Linked DNA regions of Homo sapiens. The protein of the gene in region 1 purifies or fractionates together with the protein of each later gene. This does not show direct contact. Each region holds a gene or a part of one and is shown in the gene's direction. Other genes may lie near its edges. The genes, in order: FSTL1, HEPHL1, PKP1 and COL14A1.

Region 1 (7,817 bases):
ACTGTTTCTTAGGTGAAAGCGTAACAGAATGAAGAAAGAAAGACCCAGGTAGAAAGAGCCTTCCATGCTCTTGGAATTTGGAATCTAATCCATTCCTAATTTCATCTGGGTGTGATCTCAATCCCTGTGGCTCCTGATGGCCAGGGCTGACACTTGAGCCAGCCTTCTTATCTCCTTTACCCTGGCACCACAGCCCACACAGCCCCAGCTGCTGTGCACAAGCAAGTGCCTGTCTCAGCCCATCTCCTCTGAAGAGTCTCCAAACTTACATTGATAAGCCCCAAGAACAGATCTCATGACATACATCTTTTCTGCCTTTCCACAACCCTACAGTTAGATAGAGGAAAAGTTTTGTTACCTCAAATGCTGAAATCTGAAACTTTTTGAGCACCAACATGATGCCATAAGTGGAAAATTTCACACCTGAATTCATGTGATGGGTAGCATTCAAAACACAGTCAAAACTTTGTTTCATGCACAAAATGATTTAAACTATTGTATAAAATTACCTTCAGGCTATATGTGTAAGGTATATAGGAAACAGGGATGAATTTCATGTTTACATTTGGATCCCATCCCCAAGATATCTCATTATACATATTTAAACTTTCCAAAATCTGAAATCTGAAACACTTCTGGTCCCAAGCATTTCAGATAAGGGATAATCAACCTGTATAGAGCTGGGGAAAGAGGCACAGAGAGATATTATGTCTTTGTAACTGACTGGCTGAAGAGAGGCTCAATAAATTAGGTTGGTTCATGGTCCATGATTAGGACCTCACAGGCAGACCCCCCAGGCATTCCAGGCTATTTCTGGGGCAGGCACCAGAATTCTGTGTTCCTGTGGATTCTACATACAACTCTGGCCTGGGGAGGCCCAACTGGACCCTCATGAGTTGAGAAAGCACATGGGCTGGACCTTCCCCCAGCTGCAGGCCTTATTCTAGTCCTACTGAAGTGTGTGTACACAGCACTGCCTTTTGAGAGCTGCCTGGACTGTGGTTGCCAGGTTCATGGTGCCCACTTGGGCCATGTGGCACTGGGTCTGTAGCTAGTGCTGGACGTTTCCCCTCCCTACACTCATTCCATCATCAGGCCCTGATGACACTGGAGTCTTTGAGGGTTGCTGTCATTTACCCAGCACATGCAATATTTGAACTCAAGAAAGCCCTGTGCTACTAACAATGGCCCCCAGCCAAACTTATTTAATTATTTTCCATTAATTAATCAAGACTTCACAAGGTAAACAGGGAAGTTTCGTCAGGGAAAATTGTATAGTGAATAAAGGACATCAGAGACCTGTTCCTAGGAATTAGGACAAGAATGATAAGTACGTACTAAGCAAAGGCCTAATAGTTGTTTCATGCACACCTTCATTATACAACATTAGAGTGGAACACCTGTGACACATGGCAAGCAGGAGAGGAGAGTTGTTAGCTACATCTTCCCCTTCTATCTAGAAATTTGGATAGATGTTTCTTCCAGAATCCCTTGCACCATCTGGGGAGCCATCTTGAAAGTAACATGGGGAAGCTGATCCTTTCCCAGGGCAGCAGCATGAGGGAGCCTAGGGAAAGGATTTGGGAGGAAGGGGGAAAATGTTATTGAAATTTGTTAGGAGAGCAGCCATATGCAACTTGGAATTTGATCAGTCTTGATTTGACACCCTCCTCCTGCAGCTAGTGCCTGGGTGTCTTGAATGGTCCCAGATGGCTGAGGTCTCAGTTTAGCATCTTGCCATAGAGAACAGTGTGTGAGCTTACTGCACTCCTCACTTTGTGCTTGTGGGATGCCAGCTGGGTCATGAGGGCAGCCTGAGCTGGATGATCTGAGGACCTGTGCACACATCTGCAGTGGGGCCCACAGGGCAGAGGAGCGGGAACTTTGCATGATGACCCCTGTCTGTAGCTTATTGCTTTGAGGCCTTTGCCTGAGTTCTCACTGATGTGATCAGTTACGGGCACCAAAGTGAAAGTTAAGCACTGAGAACAGGACAAGGAGGCTGGAATCAAGCAACAAGATTTGGAATCCTATAATTCCAAAGTGAGCTCAGAGGGTCATCTGCATTGCTGCTGTTCCTGAGCAGCTCATTAGAAACATATTCTGGGACCTGCTACAGAGATTCTGATTCACAGCGTGCAACTTTAAACTCTTGTTACATGTTCATCAGGGCTTGAGAACATGATGTGCAGGTTGGTCTGAACCCAAAGGTATAGTCAAAAGTGTCTACAGGGCAGTGTCAGAGATGGGGCCACACAGCATGCTTAGGGACCCCAGAGGCCTCAGTTCAGGTTGCCTCCTCTGCCCAGGCACTTTTCCTCTCTCATTGTGGGCACAGGTACCTTCTCTGCATGTCCCAGGGATTAGAGCATTTGTTGCCAAGGCCCTCTGAGGTCAGGGCAGGGTTGGAATGTATCAAGAACAAGATGAATCAGAGGCAGGTCAGCTGAGTGGAGTAATGATGGAACAGGGGTTCTGCAAAACATCCCTGAACGATCTTGTCATGCCCTTTCTAGAACTTTGATAATGGTGATTCTCGCCTGGACTCCAGTGAATTCCTGAAGTTTGTGGAACAGAATGAAACTGCCATCAATATTACAACGTATCCAGACCAGGAGAACAACAAGTTGCTTAGGTGAGAGGAACCGAGAGGTCAGAGAATGATCCACAAGGGAAGACTAACTGAGAGAGGGGACTTAAACCCTTTCCCACCTGCAAAAGAGCCACCAGTGAGAGAATGTCACGTAAAAAGCAAAATGGGAATTCTGTCCTGTTCTATTCTATGAAAGTATGAATTAATATATTGAGTACCACTGATATCTAATCAAATAGTTATTGTTTTTGGTCAGAACTTGCAAGGACTAGAAGAATATAATTTTAAAATAAATTGCCAAGGGCACGTCAGAGCAAGTTATTTCTGAATGTTGTGGGTGATGTTTTACTGATTAATTTTCTGAAGGAATTACAGTAATGTATTATTTAACTATAGGTCTAAAATAGCTTTGTTCTGATTTTTAGATAATTAGTGCTATTTCATGTCAATTGCCCTAACTGTTACAGATATATGCCCGTCTACTTTTATGGCATTATTCCAGAATCAATATTAATAAAAACTAATCGCTAAGAAACTTTTGATGTGGTTTCAGCACATCGGTAAGAATTAAAAATAGGAAAAGCATGTCTTTTTTTCAAAAGAAGTGCATTGCACAGTTTCTAGAAGGATTCTTCTTTAATAATAGTCTATGACCTTAAAGTATAGGTTCTGTAAATCCTTCATATTTTGATAATCTGAAATTATATGTTTTATAATTTCAACGTTTGAGCCTCATGATATCCCAGTGAAGGAGGGCTTCTTGTCCTCCTTTTACGGATGGGAAGACAGGCTCAGAAAAGTTGAATAACTAACTCAAGTCCATTTGAGTAGTAAGTGATTGAGCCAGGGCTCAAATACAGCCCAAGAAAGAAGTGATGGAGCTGAGTTTTTTTTTGTTTGTTTTGTTTTTTGTTTTTTTTTGTTTTTGTTTTTGTTTTGTTTTGTTTTTGTTTTTTTTTTTTTTTTTTTTTTTTGAGACGGAGTCTCGCTCTGTCGCCCAGGCTGGAGTGCAGTGGCGGGATCTCGGCTCACTGCAAGCTGATGGAGCTGAGTTCTAAAAGCTTTTCTGAAAATCTCTTTCTAGAAGGATGATAATGGTGATTCTTGCTTGAACTTCATATTCTTTCAAATCCTATATTCCTTTCATGTCATCTGTCATATCTCTTCTGTTTTGATTTTCCTAGTTTGGTTGACTTGACGTGTATATACCATGGGGAAAAGCAATTGCTAGTGGAAGGTATGCAGGCAGTGAAAACATTAGACAAAACCATTCACGAAACTTTAGTCATCTTAAGGGGGGGAACATTTGGACAGCCTGGGTGATCTGACATTCATATAACAAACTAAAGGTTAGATGCCTGCATTGGTCAGGATGGATAATAGTTGTGTTGGGTCAGTGTAGAGAGAGGCTGTTTTAGTTAGCAGTCATCTTCTTGGCCTCCTGTGGAGGCCCTGGGTGTATGTGGTCCTGATGCTTACTTCCTTTCTTCTGAGCGAAGCTGAGGTCTTGCTAACACATTTCTCCTGTGTTTTGTTTCAGGGGACTCTGTGTTGATGCTCTCATTGAACTGTCTGATGAAAATGCTGATTGGAAACTCAGCTTCCAAGAGTTTCTCAAGTGCCTCAACCCATCTTTCAACCCTCCTGAGAAGAGTATGCCTAACCTAAGAAATAGAGAGCTGTAGTGAATGGAGGCATTTTGTAGGAGCCAAGATAGAGAGGATTGGTGGAACTCTCCAGAGCTAGCTGAGAAAATCCCCTTCCATGATTCTAAACTGGGCCCCAGCCCATTCTCCCCATGGTGAAGTTAGGGCCCCACATTCTTTAGGTTGATGGTAGTGTTTGCTCAGATATAGTGCTTCTGAGGGACAGGCAGGTCTTGTCTGGGAAAAAAGGGTAAGGTGCACAGACTGTAGCAAAGATGCCCTGTTCCACCCTCACAGCTAAACTGTTGCCCCGTATTTCTGGCCCAACAGAGTGTGCCCTGGAGGATGAAACGTATGCAGATGGAGCTGAGACCGAGGTGGACTGTAACCGCTGTGTCTGTGCCTGTGGAAATTGGGTCTGTACAGCCATGACCTGTGACGGTGAGCTGTGCTTCAAGCAGAAAGAAAAAACAGCAAGGAGAGAGCTTCATGAAATCAGCATGAGAGAAGTTGGGGTGGGGATGATGGAGAAGAGGGCGGTGGCTGGGAGCAAGGAACCCAGGCAGACCCACACCTGTAAGGTTGGAGCCCCAAGTGGGGAGCTTTGAGGGCAGAACATTTATCCCATAGGCATTCAGTTTGAAAATCACTCCAGAGGCTTGGAATAAGAGAGGACCAAGACCCTGGGCAAAAGTAAATGATAATGGAATAGTAACATTATGGAAATAGTAACAGTGAAAGTAGTAATAATGGAATAATAATTAAAAATAGTAATTATTTAATAATTAAAACATTAAAATAAAAACAATAATTATTATTTAATAATAATCAAAAATAATAATGGAATAGTAACAGTGAAAGCAAATACTCAGCAAAAACCATGTGCCAGGCTCTCTTCTAAGCACTTTACATATTAACCCATTGATCCTTATAACACCTTAGGAAATGGTAAAAGACTAGTGGTTGGAAGACAAAATGACTTCTCCTTGCCATACCCAGCAGAAAAAGAAAATATGTTTGTAGACCCTCTTTCAACTAACAGAGATGGGTAATCTTTTTTAAAAAGAGAAAGTTGAGCTAGTTGAGATATGTGCAGGGTGGTCTGGGGAGACAGAGAAATCTGAGAGTTTGTGGGGCAGTGTGAGGCTACAGGGTATGTTGGAACCACTGGAGTCCCATCTGGGTCCTGGGCTACAATGATGCCAAAGATCAAGAGGGACTCTTAAAGCCGAGCCCTAGCAAAGAACCAGGGATATTCAGAGTGGAGGCAAGACAGAGAAGGGTGTTGAAGCCAGGTCTGCAACGGAGAATTGCCTTAAGGTCATTTGGAACCAGGCCGAAAAGTTTCACCAGCTAGGGTGAACCTAAAGTTATATCAGCCAGGCGCAGTGGCTTATGCCTATAATCCCAACACTTGGGGAGGCCAAAGTGGGAAGCCCAGGAGTTCAAGACCAGCCTTGCCAACATAGCGAGACCATGTCCCTACAAAAATGTGAAAATTAGGCAGGCGTGATGGCACGTGCCTGTAGTCCCAGCTACTTGGGAGGCTGAAGTGGGAGGATCACCTGAGCCTGGGAGGTTGAGGCTGCCATGAGCCATAGTCACGCCACTGCATTCTAGCCTGGACAACAGAGCAAGACCTTGTCTTAAAAAAAAAAAAAAAGTTTATTTTAAGAAGTTAACTGTGTCAAGGAAGAGCTGGCTGGAACCTAAGATAATGTTCAGGAAGATCAGGTTAAATGGTAACTAGGAGACAGAGGTCAGAAACCCAGGATGAGGCTCTTCTAGACAAGGATCCTAGAGAACAGCAACAGTATAAATGGCCCAGTACTATCTAAGGTATCACTGGTCTACCGCTGCCCAGGACCAAGTCTGTTTTCAGTGTGGAACGACAGCAAACCAATGTAACTACAGGGACAGGTGAAGGAACAGGAAGAGGCTGTTTAGAGACTAGAAATTCCTACAAGTTCCTAGAAGTCAAGACCAAGCCAGGATCTCCAGACCAAACACAGAGTTGCTACTGAAACCAACAAAACACATCTCAAAACAGTCAGTGGCCTAGCCTGCCTCAACCATGAAGCATCCTATACTTGTCTTCCCTAAACTCCCTTCAGTACCTCTCCGCTTCTAACTGCTGCTGTTCTGGCTTTGTAAAGGTAGCCCTCCATTTCTAAGGTGCAGGCAGTTGGTATGCAGTTGGCTTATAGAATAAGCATGGTCATTTGGATAATAATCTCTATCACATGCATCAGACAAAATTCAAATGATCAGCTTCATGGGATGTTGCCCATTTCCACAGCCACTCAGCTATGGGCTGCTCATCCTCCCTGGATGACCAAGTCCAGAACTCTATGTGGGTATAACATGGAGCAACCCATGTTAGATGGTGGTGCCCCAGGGGCCTGAGCACGTATGGATGTGTAGGCCGTGGATCTAAGAGGAGTTTGTGGAGCCAGCATTCTGGGGCATTTTCAGGTTAATACCTGAGAGTTAGCAGTCTGATCTTAGATCACAAATCAAAATGGGACAAGCAAGAAGGGGCATCAAAATTTGAAGCCAGGAGGAGGCAGAGCCAAGGGAAACTGCTGTGAAGGGAAGGTTGATAGCAATGTTTGGAAGATATGTCCTAGAAGTGTTTCCTAATGGTCAGCATTCTACTTGATAAGCCTAGAGATTTCATCCTAAACCTAGTAAATCAGAATTTGCAAAAGAGCAGCTTGGGAACCTGTGTAGTTTTTGTTTTTGTTTATCACTGTGCAAGTTTCAGAAACATTGCTAGATGAAATGGTTGTCAACCCTGGCTGCACATTAGAACCAACTAGAAAGACTTGTAAAAAAATACTGGTGTCCAGATCTCACCTCACATCAATTAAATCAGAATCTCTGAAGGTGGAACTAGACAGCTATCTTTTCAAATGTTCTCCAGGACATTTTGATGGTATATGAATGACTTGAGAGTCATTGTCTCAGAGAAATCTCCAGTGTCAGGATCCAAGTTTTCACCATAACTTTTTTTGTAGGGCCAGCTTCTGGCTGGGATGTGCTAAGCAGTTAAAGGAACAAAGGCCAGAGAGGAGTTGGGGTAGATTGCTTTGTTACAATGTGTTACCTTGGAGGTATCAATTACACAGGGCCCCTTCATGCCTTCATACTCAGAAAATGTGGGTAATTCACCTCTCCTTCCACAAGTTAAATGGGAGATGAATTGAGAGCCTCTAGGTAGATCTTGGCGGATTCCTCACTGGCTTACCACAGCTGCTACTGCTCTGAGCTTTGGTTCTTCTTGCAGGAAAGAATCAGAAGGGGGCCCAGACCCAGACAGAGGAGGAGATGACCAGATATGTCCAGGAGCTCCAAAAGCATCAGGTGAGTGGCAGCCTCCGTGCTGGTTCAGGTGTTGCTGTTGCCATCAGGCCCTATACCATTCAAACACTGCCCAGTGCCCCAGGAGACCAAGGAGGCTCTCTCTGCTCAATACAGTACATCTTGAGTGATACCCCATCACCTGTACTATCAAACTGTGATACAGACAGTTCCCTGATAAAGTCCTCACAGGGCCCAGTAGGTCTCAACACATA
Region 2 (7,817 bases), on another chromosome or scaffold:
AACCATTTTCTGAGCCGCTGATAAATTTTAAGAACTGAGTTATGCATGGGGTTTAAATAAGCACTTGTGAATTCATTATATTTCCCAGGCATTCTTTACATCAACAAAATTTACTGAGCATGCACTATACATCAGACTCCATATTTGTTCAAAATAGTGAACTTCTATAGTTACTTCATTAGTTGAGATGGGGCACTTACTCATGCCTGTTTTGCAAAGCAGTAGCTTAATGTAGCATTTTAGGATTTTCTTAGAGAGTTCTAGTGAACATAAAGGAAATAGTCAACCTACATATCCCACCTTATTCATTGACATATCTTCTCCTTCTATTGCTTCTCTGTCTCTCAGAATTGTTCTAACCAAGGTATCCTCAATATAGTCATAAAATCATAAGAGGAATAGAAGGAGCTGAAGATCATCTAACGTCTCCATTTTACAGAAGAGAAACTGAGGTCAAGAGACTATCAATGACTTGCCTAAGGTCAAAGTGATAATTAATGCCAGAGAGTTTCCTGAGAGAAGTCCCATAGCAAATAAATGTAAATTTGGCTGTGTTTGATTCCTAGGCACATCAAGGCATGATTGTCAGTACATTGATTATTTCCATTGTATTGCATGCCTTCTTTTTTCCTTCTAGTGGTATTTTGGCAACCTTATGTGTAGTGATTCTTGGAAAATATTTTAGGAGGAAAGGAAGTAAGGGAGAGAAGGAAAGGGGAAGGCAGGGAGGCAGAGAAAACAATGAAGGATGGAGTCAATGAAGACATAAATTCAAATCATTGCTGTGACCAGTTGTAATGCATATCCTTTACAAAATGGGAGTGATGATCTCAAATATTGCAGAAAACTACTAATTGTGATTACTTAAGACTCACCTGCCCAAATAATTCCTCTTACTCTGTATTTATTCTTTTGAAGTGAAAATGTCCAACAAAATGAAATGAATTACATAAGCAAACATAGATTACATGTATCATAAAAAGAAGCCTGTCCAGGCACAATGGCTCATGCCTATAATCCCAGCACTTTGAGAAGCAGGTGTGGGAGGATTGCTTGAGGCCAGAAGTTCAAAACCAGCCTGGGCAACATAGGTAGATCCGTTATCTACAAAAAATTCAAACAAACAACAAAAAAAATCAGCTGGGCATAGTGGCACATGCCTGTGGTCCCACCTACTTGTGATGCTGAGGTCAGAGGATTGCATTAGCCCGGGAGTTTGAGGCTGCAGTGAACTAAGTGCCACTGCACCCCAGCCTGGGTGACAGAGCAAGACCCTGTCTCAAAAAACAAAAACAAAAAACCCTAGCCTGTATGCTGAAGTAGATGTGTGTTTGCAAACAATCCTTCAAGACTGGAAAAGGGTGGGGTATTGTGGCACACGCCTGTAATCCCAGCACTTTGGGAGGCCAAGGTGGGAGGATCACTTGAGGCCAGGAGTTCAAGACCAGCCTGGCCAACATGGCAAAACCTGTCTCTACTAAAAATACAAAAATTAGCTGGTCATGGTGGTGGGCACCTGTAATCTCAGCTACTGGGGAGGCTGAGGCACAAGAATCTTTTGAACCCAGGAGACAGAGGTTGCAGTGAGCTGAGATTGTGCCACTGCACTTCAGCCTGGGTGTGACAGAGCGAGACTCCATCTCAAAAGAAAAAAAAGAGAGAGAGACTGGAAAAAGAGACCTAATCAAGTAAAGGAAAAAATTTAATTAAAAAAATCTAGACTATGGAAGATAATTAATATGTACAAGTTTTATTGATCAATTTATTTAAATTTACTAAAATAATTTAGAATTAATTGTGCTGCCTAAGTCATCAGGCATTTCAGCAACAATTGCTTTTAACTCAGTTCGAACTTAAGAAGGGATATTGTGACTTTTTAAAGCCCTGAATCAAGTTCTTTTCTGAACTTGGTCAACTCCCAGCTGCCATTTAGATGGTTTTAAAGTATTCGGTCCTGGATTTACGCCATAAACTTAATAAGATTCTGCTCCAGCAACATGTAGTAAAAACTGTTTTTCTCTTGGCTTTTTAAAGTAAACAAACAAACAAACAAAACAGTTCTCATAAATTCCTTTTAATCAATTCCTTTTCTTTCCATCTTACTACATGCTTTTGTCACTTCATTAAGTAGATACTATGTGCCAGTTTTTCTGCTAGGTCCTGATAACTGTTAAGATGAACAAGACAGGGTTTCTAGTTCCAAGGAGCACAGAATCTGGTGAAGACAGCAGATATGCCAGTGAAGGATTATGACAGAAGGTGACTGAGCCTCCTGTAAATATGAGCAGCACTCTGTTTTCTCCTGACCTCATATTGCGTTCCCACAGCAGCTCCGAGGCTGTTCTCAGTGTATGCTGATCTTCACTTTTATTGAGTGTTTTCTCTGGAAAAAGGCCAATAAAAACATTTCATTTCTCTTTTGGACAATATATATTTCTAAGAGCCAGGTTTTTCTGCACCAAAACCTTACAACCAATGGTCTGCACTGGTTTTCCAGCCATGCTTAAGCCCGTATTACCAACATTTCTGGTCCCAGTCGCCTCTGCAGGGGAGTCTCTTCCACTAGCGTGTTTCTGTTTCCAGCCCTCAATGGATACCTCTTCGGAAACTTCCCGGAGCCTGATATGTGTGTTGGAGAATCTGTGTCCTGGCACCTATTTGGAATGGGGAATGAAATAGACATCCATTCTATCTATTTCTATGGTAACACCTTCATCAGCAGAGGGCATCGGACTGATGTCGTCAACCTGTTCCCAGCCACCTTCCTTACAACAGAAATGATAGCCGAGAATCCTGGGAAGTGGATGATAACCTGCCAGGTCAGCGACCACCTACAAGGTAAAAAGGATAAAGACCAGAGTTGATATGTTTAGAATGGTACAATCAAACCACACAGTCACTAGTGCTCATCCAGTACCTACTGTTAGATAGAGCCTTGTATGTACTATATTTAATTAGGTAATAAATATACAGGAAAATATAACGCTCATCTCTTTGATATTCTATCAACAGATATTTATTGACCACTTCTGTATGAAAAAAGTGGGGAAGTGATTAAAAATTGATGAGACCTTCGAGGAACCTGTAGTATAGTTGTTAGACATAGTTAGACATTCACAAAATGAATACGATTTAAGGCAGAATGAGATAAATGCTCTTTGGGTGTTGCAGTCACTACTCTGGAGCAATCAGAGGGGCTTCCTGAGGAGCTGGCTCCTAACATGAGCCTTGAAATATGAGTAGGAACTGAATAGATGAAGAAGGAAAGAAAGACTTTTGAGGAAGCAGCATGAACTGGGAAAAACACATGTTCTTTTTGAGCAACTGTAAGTAGAGTAATAAGGTTTTAGCACTGGAAAGGACTTTCTGGATAATAAGGACCAATCCCCCCTCGAATTATTTAATTTCGTTTTGAACATCTCTTGTGAGTAGTTATAGCAGCTCATCTCATCTCTGGACTGCTCTATTGGAATGTTCTTCCTCAAATTGAGACAAAATCCATTGACCTATAGCTTCCTTCATGTCCTATGATAGGTGCATGATAAACATTTGTTGGCTTAAATGCCTGTTGAATGACCTGGTCCTGGTTTCTTCAGACATCATACACTATGTCCTTTCTTAGCTGGACCATAATGTTCCTTACAGAGAAGTGATGACAGAAGAGCCTGGGAGGCTCATCAGGCCCCTTAGCAAAGCTAAGGAGGTGGGGCTGTGTGATCCTTAGCTCTTTTGGCACACTAGTGACATAATCGGTGCAGTTATTTAAGAAGATAAATGTATGCATGCAAGAAGGACTTGATGGAGGAATTCTGACCACTGGATGCTAGTTAAGAAGCATTTGACAGTGTTAGAGGTCTAACACCTAAACGTCTGCCCTAAGATGATGAAACCAAGACAGAAAAAATATGTTAATGGAATAGACACAGAAGAAATAATGTCTGATATTTGGATACTAACTTCCCATAGTCACTAATAGGTGCAAAGATCCAGCTGCTCAGGGCTGCTTTTGTAACACATTCTTGTTCCTGTCCACCTTCCACAGTGAGTCATAGCATTAGTCAACTGCAGTATCCCAATTACATTCAACTGAAAAATTAATCAGTTAATATGTACTAGATGCTCTTCTGGGAAAACAAAGATTAACAAGAGAAGGTTTCTATTCTCAAAGAGTCTTATGCTGTTAAATCTGGGAAGAAACTGTAGATTTAAAATCAAGATATTAGCTGCCATTTGAGACTAGTAAGATCGCTAAATTAGCCCGATAGTTGTGGACATAAGCTAGTATTTATACGTTCCCTGAAATACAGTATTTCTAAATTGTCCATGCCTTCAGAAAAAAGTTATTGTAAAAAAATTAGAAAATACATATAATTGGAGGTTTTTTAACAAATAGAGACAGGGTCTTGCTATGTTGCCCAGGCTGGTCTCAAACTCCTGGGCCCAAGCAATCCTCCCACCTTAGCCTTTCAAAGTGCTGGGATTATAGGCATGAGCCACTGGATCTGGCCCCTATAAATTGGTTTTAAAATCAGTAGTTCCATAATAGAAATATTTTATATTCACATTTTGGTGAATATCTTCCCTATTTTCTATTTCTTAATATGTAAATATATATGTATTTTAAAAAATGAAATCAGTCTATTAATGCTGCACTGTAGCTAATTTTTCTCATTTACAAATATATCAGAAACACATTTTCATGTCGGTGAATATAGAGCTTACTTCATCATGGTTAATACTTCCAGTGTCCATTATAAGGAGATTACATCTTGCTTAATCAATACTCTATTGCTTAATGCTTATGTTTCCCACCAATTTTTTTGCTATTATAAACAGCACTGATGACTATTATTTATAGATGTTTGCACTTTTGTCTGAACATTTTCTTAGAAAAACTCCTAGATTTAGAATTTCTGGGTCAAAGAGTATGATTTTTTTAAAAAAGCTATGGACATACATTGCCACATTCTCTTTTGGAAATTGTTATTCTTCTACACGAAGTGTATGAGTATGGCTCTTTCCCCATTCATCTACCAACACTGAGAATTATTAGTCTTTCTAATCTTTACTAATCTGATCAATGAACAATAGTATCATTTGAAAACTGTTAAGGTTTGAGTACTATTTGAGTACTGTTAAGGTTGAACCTCTTTTTCATTTGTTTATTGGCCAATATTATTTATTTTGTGAATAAACTATTTCTGTTCCTTGCTCATTTTCTATTGGAGATTTACTTGTTTTCATCTTTATCTGTAAAAGTGATTTACGTATTAATCTTTTGTCATATGTGTCACAAATATCCCTCCTGTTGCCATTTATCCTTTTTAAAAAAACTTTCTTTATGGTCCAATTTTCTGTACAGAAGCCTAAATGTTCAAGAGCCAAATCTATCAGTCTTTTCCTATATGATTCCTTTTGTGATCATTTATGCCTCAGCTCGTGGTTTTCCTCTGTTCTGCAGCTGGTATGCTGGGGCAATACAATGTTGATAACTGCAAAAGTGATATTTTCTACCCCAAGATGAAGGGTCAACAGAGGCGCTACTTTATAGCAGCTGAAAAAATTCTTTGGGATTATGCTCCTCAAGGCTATAACAAATTCAGTGGTCTTCCTCTAAACGCCTCTGGCAGGTAAGCACCCTTTGTTGGTGTTTCTAAGCCTCTCGTCAGAGAAGCATGTGTTAGGCTTTCTCTGTGATCTAATTTGTATTCCAACCACTGCTCTGATGAGCTTATACTGCATAGATGGCATAATGTAGCTGCTTAAGGTGTTCTTAATACTGCAAAAGCACTGCTGAGAACTGGTAGAATATTTTTTGTTTTGTGACTTGACGGCTGAATCAAAACACTAGATCATTCACTCATTGATCAAACATTTCTTGAGTAGGCACTATGTGCAAACTATAGTGCAAAGTGCCATTAGAAATACTAAGCTGACAAAGAATAGAGTAAGGCCTTTACACATATGGAGCAGACAGTCTTGAAGAGGGAATGACAGGAGATGGAGATGACCTGGCCTAAGAGGGTTACCCTTTTTGGTTCAAGGATATCCTGATTTAAGTTGTGTCCCCTTTATGTCCTACAAATATTCTTTTCCTTTCTATTCAGTAAAATGCCATTTTTCTTTCAAAGCCTTACTCTAATGTCACCTCTGAAGTGAAACCTTTGACTCTTGATATAAATGAATTATGTTCTCTCTGCGCTCCCATAGAATATACTATTTAAAAAATTAATCTAGCAATTTATTAGGTGGATCTGGACTCCTGTGACTTGTTAGTATATAATCATATGCAAAGTTGTCTGTGAAGATACTAAAAAATGTACAGTGTGATATCAAGAATCCTTTTTTATATTTAAGGGAATGTTTTAAAAATTCTCTTTGTGATCAATAAAACATCATTTGTTTCTTTAATTGTACATTTTATTCATTCATTCATTCATTCATTCATACTTTCACTCATTATTCTACCAAACGGATGCACTTGAACCCTGTCTAAAGAATTTGTGTGAACCATATGTGAAAGACTCTGATATCAACATTCTCTATTGACTAGTATTTCTCCATAAACAGAATAATGAGAATTAGCATTCAAAATTGTCTTAGGAGCCTTCTAGAATTCTGAAGTGCCTTCTGAAATAGGAAAGATTAAACTATATTCAATCAATGTTTAATGTGATATATGAAAGCACAAAGTGCAAGATGACATGAGGGATGCAAGGATATCTAAAGCAATAAAATGCAGAGGAAGAAGCTGGGTTCACAAGAGTAGAGAAGTAACTGCAAGTTACAAATAAAAGTGAGGTGAGTTGTCCTGGTAGTGAGTTATCTGGATGCTCAGAGAGAGCTAAGCTGGCCAGGGAACACATTATAGAGGAAGTGAGACTTAAGCAAAATCTTAAGGAGTGATAGAATTTATTTAACTGAATAGGGAAGAGAGGAATTTTAGATGGAGGGGTTGATGCAAAGCACCTGTGGCATGGGAGGAATGAACAGATGAGACTGCAGTAACAATTTGCATAGAAGAATGGGCACTGGCATGGAGAAATAGAGAATTGGGGTAAACGGGATATCAATTGCAGAGGTCCTTTAATCTTTTTGAACATTATTTGATTGGCAATTGGAAGCAATTGAAGATTTTGGAGCAGGTAAATAGCAATAACAATTGCCATTTTGGAGATTAATGTATTAAGTGAAAAAATAAGCACAGTCTTGGCCATTGAAAGTAATTTGTAATCACGGTCTTGGCCATTATGACCATTATGGCTTACTTTTGCACCAATCTAATAGTTGTGTGTCTATGCTGAGAAGAAAAGTGAATGAGCCAGTATCAGATAGAGGATGCAGTTCAGAGGTTCATATAATGGGCTCCACCCAGTGTGATTAGGGCATGAACTGGGGTCGTGGTAGTGGGAAGAAAGGAAAAGAAAAGATGCACAAGGAGGATAGAAAAGGAAGAGTGCCAAAAAATTTTACAAAGTAAGGATGAATGAGTTAAGGGAATGAAGCAGAAAAAGAAAATCTACGTGGCTGCAAGAGTGATGGCACCATTGATGGAAATAAGATAGTATAGAGACAGTATTAGTCAGAATTTATATTATCATATTCACGACTTGGAAATTTTGCATTTCATGCATATGGTTTATATGGTAGCCCTCCAATAATTACACTATTTGATTAACTAGACACTCCATTCCTTAATAATGCCAGAAATCAAAGAGCTTACTAGATGCAGAGAATATTCATATTAATATCAGCAAGAGAGAGAGGGATGCTTATTCTGCAGAGAAACCAGTTAGCTCTTTGTTACTTTGTAGAAC
Region 3 (7,817 bases), on another chromosome or scaffold:
AAGGCTTGATTAGTTAATAAGCAAAACACGAAGAGGGCCTGGCACAGAGGAAGCTCCCAGCGAGCATCTGCTGGCTGTGCTTCATTGGTGGTGCTGAGGCCTGTCCTGTGACCCCGAGCCCTGCCCCACAGCCCAGAGGAATCCATACTGGTGCCCCCAGGGCTTAGTGTCCCCCCTGAGATGAGGCTCCTTCTGCCACTGCTATCTTCCCACTGCCTCCCAGAAAAGCCATTGGCAGTCATCTTGCTGCCCTCTCTGGACTTCTGGACACACAGCACAGACAAACAGAAAGAAAAAAAGTTGTGGAGGGCAGATAAACAGAAGGCTGAGATGTTCCCACCATGGCAGGACAGTGGCTCAGGAGATAGTGAGGCCCAGCAGGCTCCAGATCGCCAGGGAACGGGCTGACATCACAGCACCTGGGTTCTCAGCACAGTTGCCGTAAGGAGGGATTTTATCTCCTGCTCCCTCCACTGGAAGCAACAGCAGGGCCACAGAGGAGAGCCTTGTCACTGGGCTGCTCAGCCTGCTTCCAAAGGGCAAGATGCTTTTCTGCTCTGTGTGCAATATCTCCAACACCTGTGTAACCCCAAGCCCTGGAAGTCAGATTCCCTTAGACCCCAGCAAGGGCCAAACATCATTAGGAGGGTAAATCTGCTGCCCCCAAACCCTAGTCCTTTGGAGGTTTGCCAAAGGAGATTGACAAAGATCTGAGCCCAGCTGCCATGATGAAGCCCTGGGCTCCAGGTGTTGCTGTGTTTTGTGTGGACTTAGCACCGCTGACATTGACAGCTAAGGACTGGCCCCAGGAAGAAAGAATGATGGGGGCACTAGATGGCTTTGGAATCTAGAGGCATGGGGCTTCTTCTGGAGGAGTTTGTTCTGGAAAAAAAAAAAGACACATTCTTCAATATCCCAGTCTGCCCATTGGCATGTTGTCCATAGCAGTCCTACCACACACTAGGCCCTGTGATAAGTGCTTTCTCTGTATCATCTTCCAAATAGCCTAGTGAAATGGACAATTGTAGTCTCATTTTACATTTGAGATAGCTGAGGCCCAGAGAAGTGAGGCCAGTCAAGTTCATGCAGCCAGGAAATGACAGATTCAAACTCAGGTCCCAGAGGTGGCCCTGGAAGACTTCCCAGGCTGATAGTGTGGTGGTGCCTGCGCTCATCTTTCCCGATGCAGCCCAGGTGCCTCTGCTCTCTTATTAGCTAGGGTAGGTGGTAGGCCAGGAGCCTGTCGGGCCGGGCAGAGGCTCAGGCCCATGCCTCTCCTTGGTCCCCAGTCTGTGGAAAACTGCATGTGTGTTCTGCACAACCTCTCCTACCGCCTGGACGCCGAGGTGCCCACCCGCTACCGCCAGCTGGAGTATAACGCCCGCAACGCCTACACCGAGAAGTCCTCCACTGGCTGCTTCAGCAACAAGAGCGACAAGATGATGGTGAGCACAGCATCAGCAGGGCGGGGCCTGCCCCATCAAGCACCCCCCCAGGAGCCACTGCCTCATCTGCCCTTTCCTCTGGGCCCTCCTGGAGCCTGAAGCCAGCCCTAAGGGACAGGCCCATGCTGACACCTTGGCCTGGGGCTCAGGGTGCACTCTGGGAGCTGGGTAGAGGCCATTCATCTTGCACAAGGGGGAATCTGTTCTTGGAACTGTAGGGGCTCAGACCACCTTAGAGGTCAAAAACTCCAGCCTTCTGTTTGCAGGCCTTGGTCTTTCTTCCTGTATAGTGGGTCAAGTCTCCCCCATCTTCTCCCTTGCCCTTGAGGATCTGAGGAAAGCCAGAACTCTCACTCTTTCTGGCCTTGGTTCCCACCATCTCCTGAGCCCTGCCAGGTTTCCCCAGAAGCAGAAGCCTACCAGGGATGGGTTGTCAGGTCTCCTTCACTGGGCCCAGCTGTGGAATCCAGGTCTCAGACCACCCTCTTTGGCCCAGGGTGGGTCAAACCTACTGTCTGAGTCTGGAAGAGGAGGAAGCATCATGATGGGAGAGTCCAAAGCAGCCCCACATATCTGGAAGGTTTGGGCCAAGGCTGCCCTGGAACACAGCTCCCAAGATGCCAGGATGCTCTCTTCTCCCACATCCTGGGACAGTCTGGGGGACCATGGCCCATTCCTGCATCCCATGGAGCTGCTGCAGTGCATAGAGGAAAGGGGTGCAGCGGGGCTGTCCTGGGCCCCCTGCCTCTGCAGGCGCTTCCTCAGCTTGCCCTATCTGGAACCACGACCCTGAGGCTGGGGGGATGGGGACAGAATGCCTGGGTTGTGTCCTCTCACAAGGCTCCCCATTGACCCCCCTGACCGGCTCTTTATCCTCAGAACAACAACTATGACTGCCCCCTGCCTGAGGAAGAGACCAACCCCAAGGGCAGCGGCTGGTTGTACCATTCAGATGCCATCCGCACCTACCTGAACCTCATGGGCAAGAGCAAGAAAGATGCTACCCTGGAGGCCTGTGCTGGTGCCCTGCAGAACCTGACAGCCAGCAAGGGGCTGGTGAGTGGGACTGTACCTTCTCTACTGCAGCAGCCCCATCCTCCAGCCACCGTCCAGCCTCTGCTCCCTCCTTTTCCCCCCAGCCTGTCCCCTGACTTCGGAGCCTCCCATGAGCAGAGTGTGCCTGGCATATGCTGGGCTCTGGGCTGGGCAATGGGGAAACACTCCTGCCCTTTAGGAGCTGCTGGGGGATGCAGAGAGGGTGGGCCCACTGATGCTGGATTCTGTCCATGCACACACAATCCCCTTGGCCACATGGCTCCCGGTCCCCAGCTGGCCTCCTGGGCTCTGCTTGAGGTCGGGGAATGCGGCGGAGAAGGTGTTTGGCAAAAGGAGTTTCCCATTTGTTGAACTGACAAAGGTGGAAAAAGAGGGTTTGGGGTCCAAGCAGGTCCAGAGAAGATGTGACAGAATCCGTGCAGATGTTGAGGCCAAATGTATGTAGCTTGGAGGGCACAGTGGTATGGGGCAGAGCCAGAGGAAACCTGTTGCAATCAAGAAGAGTTGAGATGGGCCAGGCGGCCAACTGTTCTTCAGCTTTACTTAGGAAAAGGGAACCGAGCAGCAGCAGCACTAGAGTAGACCGAGGGCAGAGAACTTCCCTGGCTGTGAGGAGAGAGGCTGGGCAGTTCTGAGAATGCCAAACCCACCTAGACCTGTTACACCCAGGATAGCTATGTTGCTTAGAGGCCTGGGCGAACTGGCCTACCTCTAGGGGACCCCAGTTCTCTCTCCATGTGGGCCCAGACCCTTTCTTAGCCCTCTTTTCTCAGGCAAGCCCTCAACAAATATGTGTTGGATTCTAAAGAGGTAGGAAAGTTGGAAGAAGATGGCCAGATGTTTAATTGACAAATACCCTTGACCATATAGTTTCACATGGGCAGATAGCGTGGGGAGATGTAATGGGGGCAGCGCTGAGACAGTGGGGTGAGAGAGCAGCATTGGACGCTTGGGTTACTCTGGAAGCTAACTCTGGGTCACTATGAGTAGGGGAAATGAGACTTCCCTCTCTCCACCCATCTGGGCTGCAGGCTGATCCAGGAGACAGGATCAGGGCTGGGAAAGGGGAGGTGCATGTTAGCCTAGGTTTCTGTAGTTGCCCACATGTGAGCTAGTGCTTCCAATATGAAAGAGAAAGGGTTCTGGGATGTCTGCCTTTGGGGCTCCTTGCCCCTTTCTGCCTGCCATGGTGCCTGGGAAGCCACAGGCTAGCTCATCATCTACTCCTTCTCTCTTAGATGTCCAGTGGCATGAGCCAGTTGATTGGGCTGAAGGAAAAGGGCCTGCCACAAATTGCCCGCCTCCTGCAATCTGGCAACTCTGATGTGGTGCGGTCCGGAGCCTCCCTCCTGAGCAACATGTCCCGCCACCCTCTGCTGCACAGAGTGATGGGTAAGGTCCCTCTCTCTCCTCCCCCTCTAGCTAAGACATGGCAGGCTCCCTACAATTCAAGCCTGCTTGAAGGTCATCCTTTAAGCCATTCCCTGGGATGAGCATTCCAAGAAAGGAAGCTGGCCAAAGACAGGTATGGAGACAGGAGAAGGGAGCCTGTCACCTGAGGGCTGGGAGCAGATCTGCAAAAGTCCTATCTGGGTCTCTGAGCCCTGAGTTGGAGCTGCCAGGAAGCCCTGAGGGCCACCTGGCTCAGAGCCCGGCAGAAGGCTATCGAAGAGTGTGGCCCCAGAGGGAACCCCTCAGCCCTTCCTTCCCCAGTCATCCTGACCCTGTGCCCCAACTCGTTCCTCTCCCAGGGAACCAGGTGTTCCCGGAGGTGACCAGGCTCCTCACCAGCCACACTGGCAATACCAGCAACTCCGAAGACATCTTGTCCTCGGCCTGCTACACTGTGAGGAACCTGATGGCCTCGCAGCCACAACTGGCCAAGCAGTACTTCTCCAGCAGCATGCTCAACAACATCATCAACCTGTGCCGAAGCAGGTGGGCGGGGGGTTGCTCCCACGGGCTGCACCCCAATCAGAGCCCCTCCTCACCCTGCACAGCAGGAAGCAGTCCCGCAGCTCTCCATGGAGTAGGGGAAGCACCAAGGGCAGGGGGAGCCAGGGACGGGGGAGGCTTGAATGGAGGAGAAGTTCCAGAAGCCGAGAGTGCGTGGAGAGAAGGGTCCAGCATCCAGGCCCCAGGGCTGCATGGAGGGAAGAGGCAACACACTTCCTGGCTGGGGGACTCGGGGGCACAAGGTCCTCAGAGGGCCAGCAGGAGGCATGGGGCAGCAGGTCCAACTGAATAGGGACTTTATCCTGCTCTGTGGGGCTCTCTCTTCCCCGGACAAGGCTGGGGACTGGAGTGGAAGAGCACTGCCACCTCATGGCCCCTGAGGAGAGTCCTGGGGTGCTCTAGGTGGGCAGGGGCATGGGGTTGTGCCCACTGGGTAGGGTGACCAGGCTCACCACACCCCAATGGGGCTCCTCTCTTTTGCACACCTGAGGCCTCCTCTGAGGCCTCCCCTGTGTCCAGGCCCTGGCAGTGGGGGTGGGAGGGAAGAGGGTGCTCCTTCTCACACCTCCTGGAATCTCATCTCACAAATGCACTTCTCACCTGCCCAGTGCCTCACCCAAGGCCGCAGAAGCTGCCCGGCTTCTCCTGTCTGACATGTGGTCCAGCAAGGAACTGCAGGGTGTCCTCAGACAGGTAAGAGCCCAGGACATCATCCTCTTCTGAGGTTCTTCCTGCTCATGAGCAGAGGGCCTGGCATATGCTGGGCTCTGGGCTGGGCACTAGAGAAACGCCCCTGCCCTTCGGGACAGTCTGAGAGACAAAGACAGCGTCTACGTGAAAATGAATGTGATGAACGTTCTGATCAAGTCTCTGGGCTCTGAGATCTGCGAGGGATGCTGAGAACATGGAGGGCAGAGGAAATCAAGGAAATGTGTGAGAGGCCTGGGGTGGGATCCTTTAGGAGCAAACTGAAAAACAGAGTGGACAAAAAGCACACAAGTCTTTTGAGGGCATGGGGTTCACTCCAGCTAGAAAAGTAGGTGTGGGCTAGGTTACAAAACCCTTCTAATGTCAAACTGAAGAGCTTGGACTTGTACCTTTGGCACTGGGGAACCATTCAAAGTTTTGAATAGAGGGTTTCATGATCAAAGCAGCACCAAAGCTCACCCTGTGAGCAAGGCAGAGTGGGCTGAGAAGCCTGGAGGCTGCTGTCCTTGTCCTGTGGTGACCTTGGCCTCCTCTCTGTCCTCCACCCCTCCCCAGCTAGCCAGGTACAGAGTCCTCTAGGGTATAAGGTCTTGTTGTATGACATCTTCACATGGCCTCTTCTTTCCCATTCCTCAGTGATAAGCATGGACATAAAGGACAGGAGGTGGAAGAAATGGAGCAGTGGGGCTGATTAGGCTGGAGCTTTTAGCTTGGAGACTATGGTTATATTCATAAAGACACATCAGATGAGGAGAGCCTGAGAAGGCTTTTAGGTGGGAGTAAGAGGGGTCCCAATTTGGAGAGGTTGAGTTTGGAAGACTTGGATGGGAGTCCAGGCTGGAGGTGGTGTGGGCCCTGGCAGAGGGGCCAGAGCTACCATACAGAGTGGAGCTTTGTTCAGGCAGGCGAAGCCATGAGAACAGGCAAGACCACCATGGGTTGCATGTGTATGGAAAAGTCTTGAAGGACAGGGCAGAAATATGAAGACCATCTGCTGGGGACAAGAAGGAGGAAAGGCCAGGGAAAAGAGGAACTGTGCAGGGTGCCAGAAGGGGCTGAAGACCTGGTAAGAAGAGAAAGCTCTAAGGAAGGCAGGGCAGCAGTTCCCAGGGCTACCTAGAGGACCAGGGGATGGACACTGGAAAAGGCCCTGGATCCGGTGCTTCGGAAGTCTCTGGAGCCGTCCAGGAGCACTGCTGGCCAAGCAAGGGGAGCCCCATGGGGCCTGCTGCAGTGGGCAAGGCAGTGGATGGGGATGGATGGGGAGTTGCTGAGAGGAGATGCTGCTCCCTGCAATTTAGCCTGCAGAAAAAGGAGCAAAACAGTGGGTAAAAAGAGATCTGTTTAAAGACAGAGGAGACTCAAGCATCTCTGTCATGGGAGGAGAGGGAGTAGGCAAAGAAGGGAGAAAGACAGGGATGGAGGACAGGGAAGCCTGGGGATTGGTTGAGCAGCGTGGGGCAGAAGGAAGCCCAGCTCTTCCTCCAGCATGGCAGGGGACAATAGGGAGACTCATGAACGCACGGTGTCCAAAGATGATTGGGGAAATCTGAAGGTCACAGCAAAGGGTGGCCCTTGTTCTCCATGTGACAATCCAGAGCTCCTTTCCAACAGCACTGCATTGAAGATGGGCTTGGCAAATGGCAACTGCCAGATAGACAAAGGGAGACGAGGAGGCAGGTAAGGAGGACTGGTGTGAGCTTCCTCCCGCTGTGTAATGGTGGTCCAAAGCATTCAGCTTACCCCAAAACACAGAGTCCACCCCCGGCCTAAGACACACAGAGAATCCACTGACATCGCTCTCGGTGGGAATTCCCTTCTACACATGCCTTTGGGAACCAGCGTCCCCATTCAGTCTCCACTCCTCCTTCCAGCTATGCTTGACAACCATCCTGGGCATGATCTAGTTGGTGCGTCTGTTCCCAAAGGGCCTTCACATCCATCATGCATTGAGTTGTCACAAGCACAGGTGAGACAGGCCACATGGCTTGTGTCCATTTTGCTGAATAGGGAATCAGGGTCCAAGGAGTTTGTCTTGATTCAGTGAGTCAGGGCATGAGCCATGCTCGACAGGAATGAGCATGCCAATCTGCAGAAGAAAAATGGCATCATGTAATACATGCCCAAAGACAGGAGGGGCAGGGCTTCGAACCGGCTGCTGTTTCGGATCCCCTATGCCATCTCCCCTCCTGTTCCCACAGGTCGGTGATGGCTGGCTTGGCTCTCAGAGCTCAGGGCTGGCAGCAGGACCCTCTTTTCAAGGGCACCTTGGCCTATTGCTGCATTCAAATCATGCTGTCCACATTCACTTGGAAGCATGTATTGGGCACCTGCTGTATGCTGGGAGAAATAACAGGAATAAGACTCACTCTCCATCCAGCAGGCACTCAGGGGCTAGTGGGGCTGGAGGTGAAGAACAGACAAGTAAACAGAACCTTCTAGCACAGCGGCTTCTTACCAGTGCGAGCCCCCTGCTCCTGTGTTTGAGAAACAATGGGCATGTCCTCTCTGCCCAAGAGCTCTTGTCAGAATTGTTTAAAAAAAGAAAAGATAGAGGTGGTCAGAGGGAAGAACAATTGACAGCTTCTCTAATCTGATTTTGATTGTTGCTCTGTTTAAAAAATAATACTAGCCTAAATCCTCACGCCTTGA
Region 4 (7,817 bases), on another chromosome or scaffold:
AAGTGCTCCACTTAAAAGATGCAGATTAGAAGAATGGATACAAAATCACAAACCAAATATCTGCTATCTTTAAGAGACTCACCTAACATGTAAGGATTTGTATAAACTCAAAGTAAAGGGGTAAAAGAAGATATTCCATGCAAATGGAAACCCAAAGCAAGCAGGAGTAGCAATTCTTATGTCAGATAAAACAGACTTTAAAGCAACAATAGTAGAAAAAAAAGACAAAGAAAGTCATTATATAATGATAAAAGGATTGATCCAACAAGAAGATATTACAATCCTACATTTATATGGACTTAACTCTGGAGCTCCCAGATTCAGAAAACAATTACTGCTAGACCTAAGAAGTAAGACAACAACACAATAATAGTGGGGAACTTTAACACTCCACTAGCAGCACTAGACAGATAATCAAGACAGAGAATCAACAAAGAAGCAATGGTCTCAAACTACACTCTAGAACAAATGGACCTAACATGTATTTACAGAAGATTCTATACAAGAAGTGCAGAATATACATTCTTCACATCAGCATATGGAACATTTTCCAAGCTAGACCATGATAGGCCACAAAACAAGTCTCAATAAATTTTTAAAAATCAAAGTCATATCAGGCATCTTCTCAGACCACAATGGAATAAAACTAGAAATCAACTCCAAAAGGAATCCTCAAAAGTATACAAATACTTGGAAATTAAACCATTTGCTCCTGAATGATTTTTGGGTTAATAATAAAATCAAGAAGGAAATTTAAAAATTATTTGGAATGAAAGATAATACTTACACAAGTTGTCAAAACCTCTGACATACAGTAAAAGCAGTTCTAAGAGGAAAATATATAGCACTCAATGCCTACATCAAAAAGTCTGAAAAAGCACAAATTGGCAACCTAATGTCACACCTCAAGGAACTAGTGAAACAAGAACAAACCAAAGCCAAAGCTAGCAGAAGAAAAGAAATAACAAAAATCAGAGCAGAACTAAATGAAATTGAAACAAAAAGCAATAAAAAAGATCAATGAAACAAAAAATTGGTTCTTTGAAAAGATAAACAAAATTGATAGACCATTAGCTGGTTTAACCAAGAAAAAAGAGAGAAGGTTCAAATAGTCTCAATTAGAAATGAAAATAGAGACATTACAACCAACACCACAGAAATGCAAAAGATTATTCAAGACTATTATGAACACCTCTATACATAGAAACTACAAAATCTGAAGGAAATGGATAAATTCCTGGAAACAACAACCCCCCTAGATTAAATCAAGAATAAGCCCTGAGCAGACCAACAACAGGCAGTGAGATTGCATCAGTGATTTTAAAACAGTTTTCCAAAAAAAAAAAAAGGCCCAGGGCCAGATGGATTCACAGATGAATACTACCAGACATTCAAAGAAGAATTGGTACCAATTGTATGGAAACTATTAGGTTGGTGCAAACCACAACTACTTTTGCACCAACCTAATATTCTAAAAGATTAGAAGGGGAATTCTCACTAAATCTTTTTGTGAAGCCAGTATTACCTGATACAAAAACCAGTAGAGGACATAATGAAAAAGAAAATTACATGCCAACATCCCTTGTGAACATAGACGCAAAAATAATCAACAAAATACTAGCTAAACAAATCCAACAACACATCAAGAAGATAATACGCTGTGATCAGGTGGATGTCATCCCAGGGACACAGAGAGGGCTTAACATACACAAGTCAATAAATGTGATACATCACATAAACAGAATTAATAACAAAAACCATATGTTCATCTCATAGATGCAGAAAGCATTCAATAAAATCCAGCATCCCTTTATGATAAATACTTTCAACAAATTGGGAATAGAAAGGACATACCTCAAAATAATAAATGCTATATATAGCAACCTCACAGCCAAAATCATACTGAATGGAAAAAAGTTGATAGCATTCCTTCTGAGAACTGGAACAAGACAAAGATACTCATTTTCACCGCTTCTATTCAAGATAGTACTGGAAGTCCTAGCCAGAGCAATCAGGCAAGAGAAAATAATAAAGGGCATCCAAACTGGAAAAGAAGAAGTTAAACTATTACTGTGTGCCAATGATATGATCATATACCTAGAGAACTTAAAGACTTCTCCAAAAGACTCCTAGATTTGATAAACAAATTCAGTAAACTCTTAGGTTACAAATCAATGTATACAAATCAGTAGCACTGCTATACACCAACGATCAATTCTGAGATAAGAGATAAGGCCTGAGGATCAAATCAAGAACATAATCACTTTTACAATAGCTGCAAAAAAAATAGACATACCTAGGCATATATTATACTTAACTAAAGAGATGGAAATTCTCTTCAACAAGAATCACAAAACACTGCTAAGAGAAATCAGAGATGACACAAACAAATGGAAGCATCCCATGCTCATGGATTGAAATAATTCTTATGAAAATGATCATATTTCCCAAAGCAATCTACAGATTCAATGCAATTCCTATACAAATATCAACATCGTTTTTCACAGAATTAGAAAAAAAATCCTGAAATTCATATGGAACCCAAAAAGAGCCCAAATAGCCAAAGCACTCCTAAACAAAAAGAAAAAAATCTGGAGGCATCACATTACCTGACTTCAAAGTATACTACAAGACCATAGTTACTAAAACAGCATGATACTGATATAAAAATAAGCACATAAACTAATGGAACAGAAGAGAGAACCCAGAAATAAAGTCAAATACATACAACCAACTGATCTTGGACAAAACATTCAAAAACATAAATTGGGGAAATGACACCCTATTTAATAAATGGCACTGGGAAAACTGGATAGCCACATGTAGAATGAAACTGGATCCCTACCTCTCACCTTATACAAAAATCAACTCAAGATGGATCAAAGCCTTAAATCTAAGACCTGAAATGATAAAAATTCTAGGAGATAACCTGCGAAAAACTCTTCTGGACATTGACCTGGCAAGGAATTTATGACTAAGACTCCAAAAGCAAATTCAACAAAAACAAAAATAAATAAATGGTACCTAATTAAACTAAAAACCTTCTGAACAGCTAATCATCAGAGTAAACAGAAAACACAAGAATGGGAGAAAATATTTGCAAACTATGCATCTGACAAAGAACTAATATCCAGAATCTACAAGAAACACACACAAATCAGCAAGAAAAAAACAAATATCTCATCAAAAAATGGGAAAATGGCATGAATAAACATTTCTCAAAAGAAGATACACAAATGGCCCACAAACATATGGAAAAATGCTCAACATCACTAATCATCATGGAAATGCAGATTAAAACCACAATGAGATACCTCCTTGCCCCTGTAAGAATGGCCATTATTATAAGTCAAAAAACAATAGATGTCGGTGTGGATGTGGTGAAAAGGAAATATTTATACACTGCTGGTGGGCATGTAATTTAGTATAACCTCTATGGAAAACAGTGTGGAGATTTCTTAAAGAACTAAAAGTAGATTTACCTTTGGTTCCAGCAATCCCAGTACTGGCTATCTACCCAAAGGAAAAGAAGTCATTATGTCAAAAGACACCAGTAAACATATGTTTATTTTAGCACAATTCACAAATGCAAAGATATAGAACCAACTTCAGTGCCTGTCATCCAATGAGTAAAGACAATGTTATATATATATGTAAAAAAATATATTATATATATATTTTACACAAACACACACCATGGAATACTACTCAGCCATAAAAAAGAACAAAGTAATGTACTTTGCAGCAGCTTGAATGGAGGCCATTATTCTAAGTGAAGTAATTCAGGAATGGAAAATCAAATACCGTATGTTCTCACTTTTAAGCGAGAGCTAAGCTGTAGCTACACAAAGGAACACAGGGTGGTATAATGGACTTGGAGACTCAGAGTGGGGAGGGTGGAAGGTGGATGAAGGATAAAAAAACTACATACTAGATAGAATGTACACTACTTGGGTGATGGGTGCACTAAAATCTCAAACCTTGCCACTATACAATTCAACCATGTAACCAAATACCCTTGTACTCCAAAAGTATTGTAAATAAAAATAGGTTCCCCACCCTGTGTCCAAGTGTTCTCATTGTTCAATTCCCACCTATGAGTGAGAACATGCAGTGTCTGGTTTTCTGTCCTTGTGATAGTTTGCTCAGAATGCTGGTTTCCAGTTTCATCCATGTCCCTTCAAAGGACATGAACTCATCCTTTTTTATGGCTGCATGGTGGGGGTAAGGGGGAGGGATAGCATTAGGAGATATACCTAATGTAAATGACGAGTTAATGGGTGCAGCACACCAACATGGCACATGTATACATATGTAACAAACCTTCACATTGTGCACAGGTACCCTAGAACTTAAAGTATAATAATAAAAAAAAATAAAATAAAATTAGGTTATTAAAAAAGAGGAGAATAGGTAACATGCTGAGGCATGTCAGAAAGAAGCAAGTTCCCTTTGAATTGCAGGAGACTTTATAAAAATGGTGACATGTCCAGTAGACTGATAAACTGGCAGCAGCTTAAGGCCCATTTAAACAAAGCTCTCGAAAGATGCTATCTTTACTTATTAAATCATAATTCTGAAAAACAAATAAAAAACAATTAAAAATGATCCAAAAGTTCCACAGGAATAAAAGCCAGTTGTAAGAACTGAAGCCAGAAAGCTTTGTATAGTAGTGGTTAAGAACATACATTTTGACCTAGAATAGACCTAACTTCAACTGTTGACTCTGCCAGTGACCACTCTTGTGATGTGCAAGTAACTTGTCTTTTGCAGCTCAGTTTCCTCAAGTGTAAAGTGAGTAGAATAGTAGTAATTACTTCATAGGTTTGCTTCATAAGGAAATCTTTGTAAAGAGTCTAACTCTGATTTTCGGACATTTGTCAAGTTACCAAGCTTAGGCTGCCATTTTTAAACTGTCAAATGAGGTGGCAAAAATCCTACAAGCTTGAAAGATTTTTAAAAAACTACTTTCTGAAAGTACTGAGAGACACATGCACTCCTATGTTCATTGCAGCACTATTCACAGTAACAAACATGGAATGCCCATCAATGGTGGACTGCGTAAAGAAAATGTGGTGAACATACAGCAAGAAATACTACGCAGCCATAAAAAAGAACAAAATCATGTTCTTTGCAGCAACACGGGTGCCTCTGGAAGCCATTATCTTGTGCAAATTAACACAGAAACATGAAACCAAATACTGCATGCTCTCACTTAGAAGTGGGAGCTAAACATCGAGTACACACGGACGTAAAGACGGGAACAATAGACACTAGGGGCTACTAGTAGGGGGAGAATAGAAGGAGGCTGAAGGTTGAAAAACTGCCTATTGGGAACTATGCTCACTACCTGGGGGACAGAATCATTTGTACACCACCTCTCAGTGACATGCCGTTTACCCATGTAACAAACCTACACAATGTACCCTCTGAATCTAAAATAAAATTTTTAAAAAAGAAAAGATGTATTTAATTTGTCTTCAAATTTGGTATGTAACTTGTATGAAAGAAATTTTAATCCAAGCAGATTTTGTAATGAGATAATGAAGAAATTAAAACTACAGGTGACACTGTGCTGTTGCTCTCTGACCCAGTGGAAGTCTACATATGTGTGAAAATGAATACACCTTCTCTCTCCAGGTTGCAATGGTTCAGTTCACTGATGATCCCAGAACAGAATTTAAACTAAATGCTTACAAAACCAAAGAGACTCTTCTTGATGCAATTAAACACATTTCATACAAAGGAGGAAATACAAAAACAGGTATGACCAAAAGAAGCCCAGCTAAGGCTCAAAGTAATTCATTATTTGTAACTACTGAAATGACCTTTTATTTTAAGGCATAGTAATTTTTTAAAGATTTTTTTTTTCATTAATTTAAGAACTTTGTTCCCACCCTTTCTTCTCCAGAAAAACAAAAATGGGAGGGAGTGAAATCAAACTGTTGCCTTTCTTTGTTTCAGGAAAAGCAATTAAGTATGTTCGAGATACCTTGTTCACTGCAGAGTCAGGTACAAGAAGGGGCATCCCAAAGGTTATCGTGGTTATAACTGATGGAAGATCACAAGATGATGTGAACAAAATCTCCAGGGAGATGCAATTAGATGGTAAGATATATAAACAATAGTGGCTACCAAATATGATGTTAGAATTGTTATTTTCTAAATACAAATTTATAGGCTATATCAGCATTACTTAAATGTTTTAAAATATTTCTTCATATTAACTAGACAGTGTAATTTTTAAAATACTTTCTGGTATACAAATCTGTAATTGTACTGCTTTGTTAGAGAAAATAGGTTATTTTCTCTAACACTTTTGTTACATACAGGATGCCCTTTATATGGAACTCTAGCAATTAAGTACTGTAAGAAAAGGACCAGGGAAAGAATCTTATTACAGAAACTCCTCAGCCTCTTAATCATACCCAAATGTCCATCGATGACAGACTGGATAAAGAAAATGTGGCACATATAAGCCATGGAATACTATGCAGCCATAAAAAAGAATGAGTTCATGTCCTTTGCAGGGAAATGGATGAAGCTGGAAACCATCATCCTCAGCAAACTAACACAGGAACAGAAAACTAAACACCACATGTTCTCACTCATAAGTGGGAGCTGAACAATGAGAACACATGGACACAGGGAGGGGAACATCACACACGGGGGCCTGTCGGGGGTGGGGGGCAAGGGAGGGAGAGCATTAAGACAAATACCTAATGCATGCAGGGCTTAAAACCTAGATGACAGGTTGATAGGTGCAGTAAACCACCATGGCACACGTATACCTATGTAAAAAACCTGCATCTTCAGCACGTGTATCCCAGAATTTAAAGTAAAATTGTGTAAAAAAGAAAAAATATTGATTGAATGTATATATATATATATGGACCAGGGAAGGAACCTTATTACAGAAATTCCTCAGCCTCTTAATCTGTAAAATAGAGATTCTCACAGGACTGCTGTGAAGATTAAATTACATAAGTTATGGCAAATAGTAGTTCTATTTACTTGCCAAGCATTGAATGGTGGCCCACCTTAGGTTGCTAGGCCTATTAATGTCTCAGCTTCTACTTCTGAAAAAAAAAAAAAAAACTGAGATAAGCTCAGTGTCTCTGTTTCAAGTATATTTCATACCATAAATGTTAAAAGTAACTTTTAAGAATATGCAACCATAGAGATATTACTCAAATGCAAACTACTTCGTCTCAGGCACAATTTGGGGCCTTGGTCTTCTTGGGTTTCTTTAAAATGGAAAATCTCTTTAGGGGATGATGGAATCATTATCACATAATGAAATATATACATGCAGAACTCTGATGAACTGTAAAGAATGAATTATCCACCCCCATGGGCCTTCCTAAATAAACATATTTTAAACAGTTGGATGTGTCTTATATTACATTATTTGTGTTTTGTACAATTTAAAGTAATCGGAAATCTGTTCTCTGTCTGCCACAGGCTATAGCATTTTTGCAATTGGTGTGGCCGATGCAGATTACTCGGAGTTGGTTAGCATTGGCAGTAAGCCCAGCGCACGCCATGTCTTCTTTGTGGATGACTTTGACGCCTTTAAGAAAATCGAAGATGAGTTAATTACTTTTGTCTGCGAAACAGCATCAGCAAGTTAGTTCTTTGGAATTTGTACTTACTCATGTTGCTTAACAGCTGAAATATTTGACACTGGTTAAATAGTGAGTCCGATCTAGATCTGAGAAAAGAATATTGACTTCCAGTACTGCTTGTTATATAGACATTAAGTTTTGTGGCTTTGAGCATATGGAAATAAACCTCCCCTCCTCTGTTTAGAGTTT

Evidence for each region.
Region 2: the proteins of FSTL1 (region 1) and HEPHL1 purify together in Homo sapiens (affinity purification with mass spectrometry; one large-scale study listed by BioGRID and IntAct). This does not show direct contact.
Region 3: the proteins of FSTL1 (region 1) and PKP1 purify together in Homo sapiens (affinity purification with mass spectrometry; one large-scale study listed by BioGRID and IntAct). This does not show direct contact.
Region 4: the proteins of FSTL1 (region 1) and COL14A1 purify together in Homo sapiens (affinity purification with mass spectrometry; one large-scale study listed by BioGRID and IntAct). This does not show direct contact.

The regions. Positions count from the first base shown.
Region 1 is NC_000003.12:120,399,671-120,407,487, reverse strand, and holds part of FSTL1 (follistatin-related protein 1 precursor), read left to right. Parts: intron 1-2,516; coding exon 2,517-2,635; intron 2,636-4,133; coding exon 4,134-4,246; intron 4,247-4,569; coding exon 4,570-4,680; intron 4,681-7,528; coding exon 7,529-7,605; intron 7,606-7,817.
Region 2 is NC_000011.10:94,064,913-94,072,729, forward strand, and holds part of HEPHL1 (ferroxidase HEPHL1 precursor), read left to right. Parts: intron 1-2,058; exon of another isoform or gene 2,059-2,383; intron 2,384-2,522; exon of another isoform or gene 2,523-2,583; coding exon 2,584-2,838; intron 2,839-5,461; coding exon 5,462-5,630; intron 5,631-7,817. UniProt on the Homo sapiens protein: Is a copper-binding glycoprotein with ferroxidase activity. It oxidizes Fe(2+) to Fe(3+) without releasing radical oxygen species. May be involved in the regulation of intracellular iron content.
Region 3 is NC_000001.11:201,320,689-201,328,505, forward strand, and holds part of PKP1 (plakophilin-1), read left to right. Parts: intron 1-1,289; coding exon 1,290-1,445; intron 1,446-2,324; coding exon 2,325-2,501; intron 2,502-3,739; coding exon 3,740-3,893; intron 3,894-4,252; coding exon 4,253-4,439; intron 4,440-5,065; coding exon 5,066-5,150; intron 5,151-7,817. UniProt on the Homo sapiens protein: A component of desmosome cell-cell junctions which are required for positive regulation of cellular adhesion.
Region 4 is NC_000008.11:120,272,471-120,280,287, forward strand, and holds part of COL14A1 (collagen alpha-1(XIV) chain isoform 1 precursor), read left to right. Parts: intron 1-5,014; coding exon of another isoform or gene 5,015-5,029; exon of another isoform or gene 5,030-5,462; intron 5,463-5,640; coding exon 5,641-5,764; intron 5,765-5,964; coding exon 5,965-6,108; intron 6,109-7,464; coding exon 7,465-7,629; intron 7,630-7,817. UniProt on the Homo sapiens protein: Plays an adhesive role by integrating collagen bundles. It is probably associated with the surface of interstitial collagen fibrils via COL1.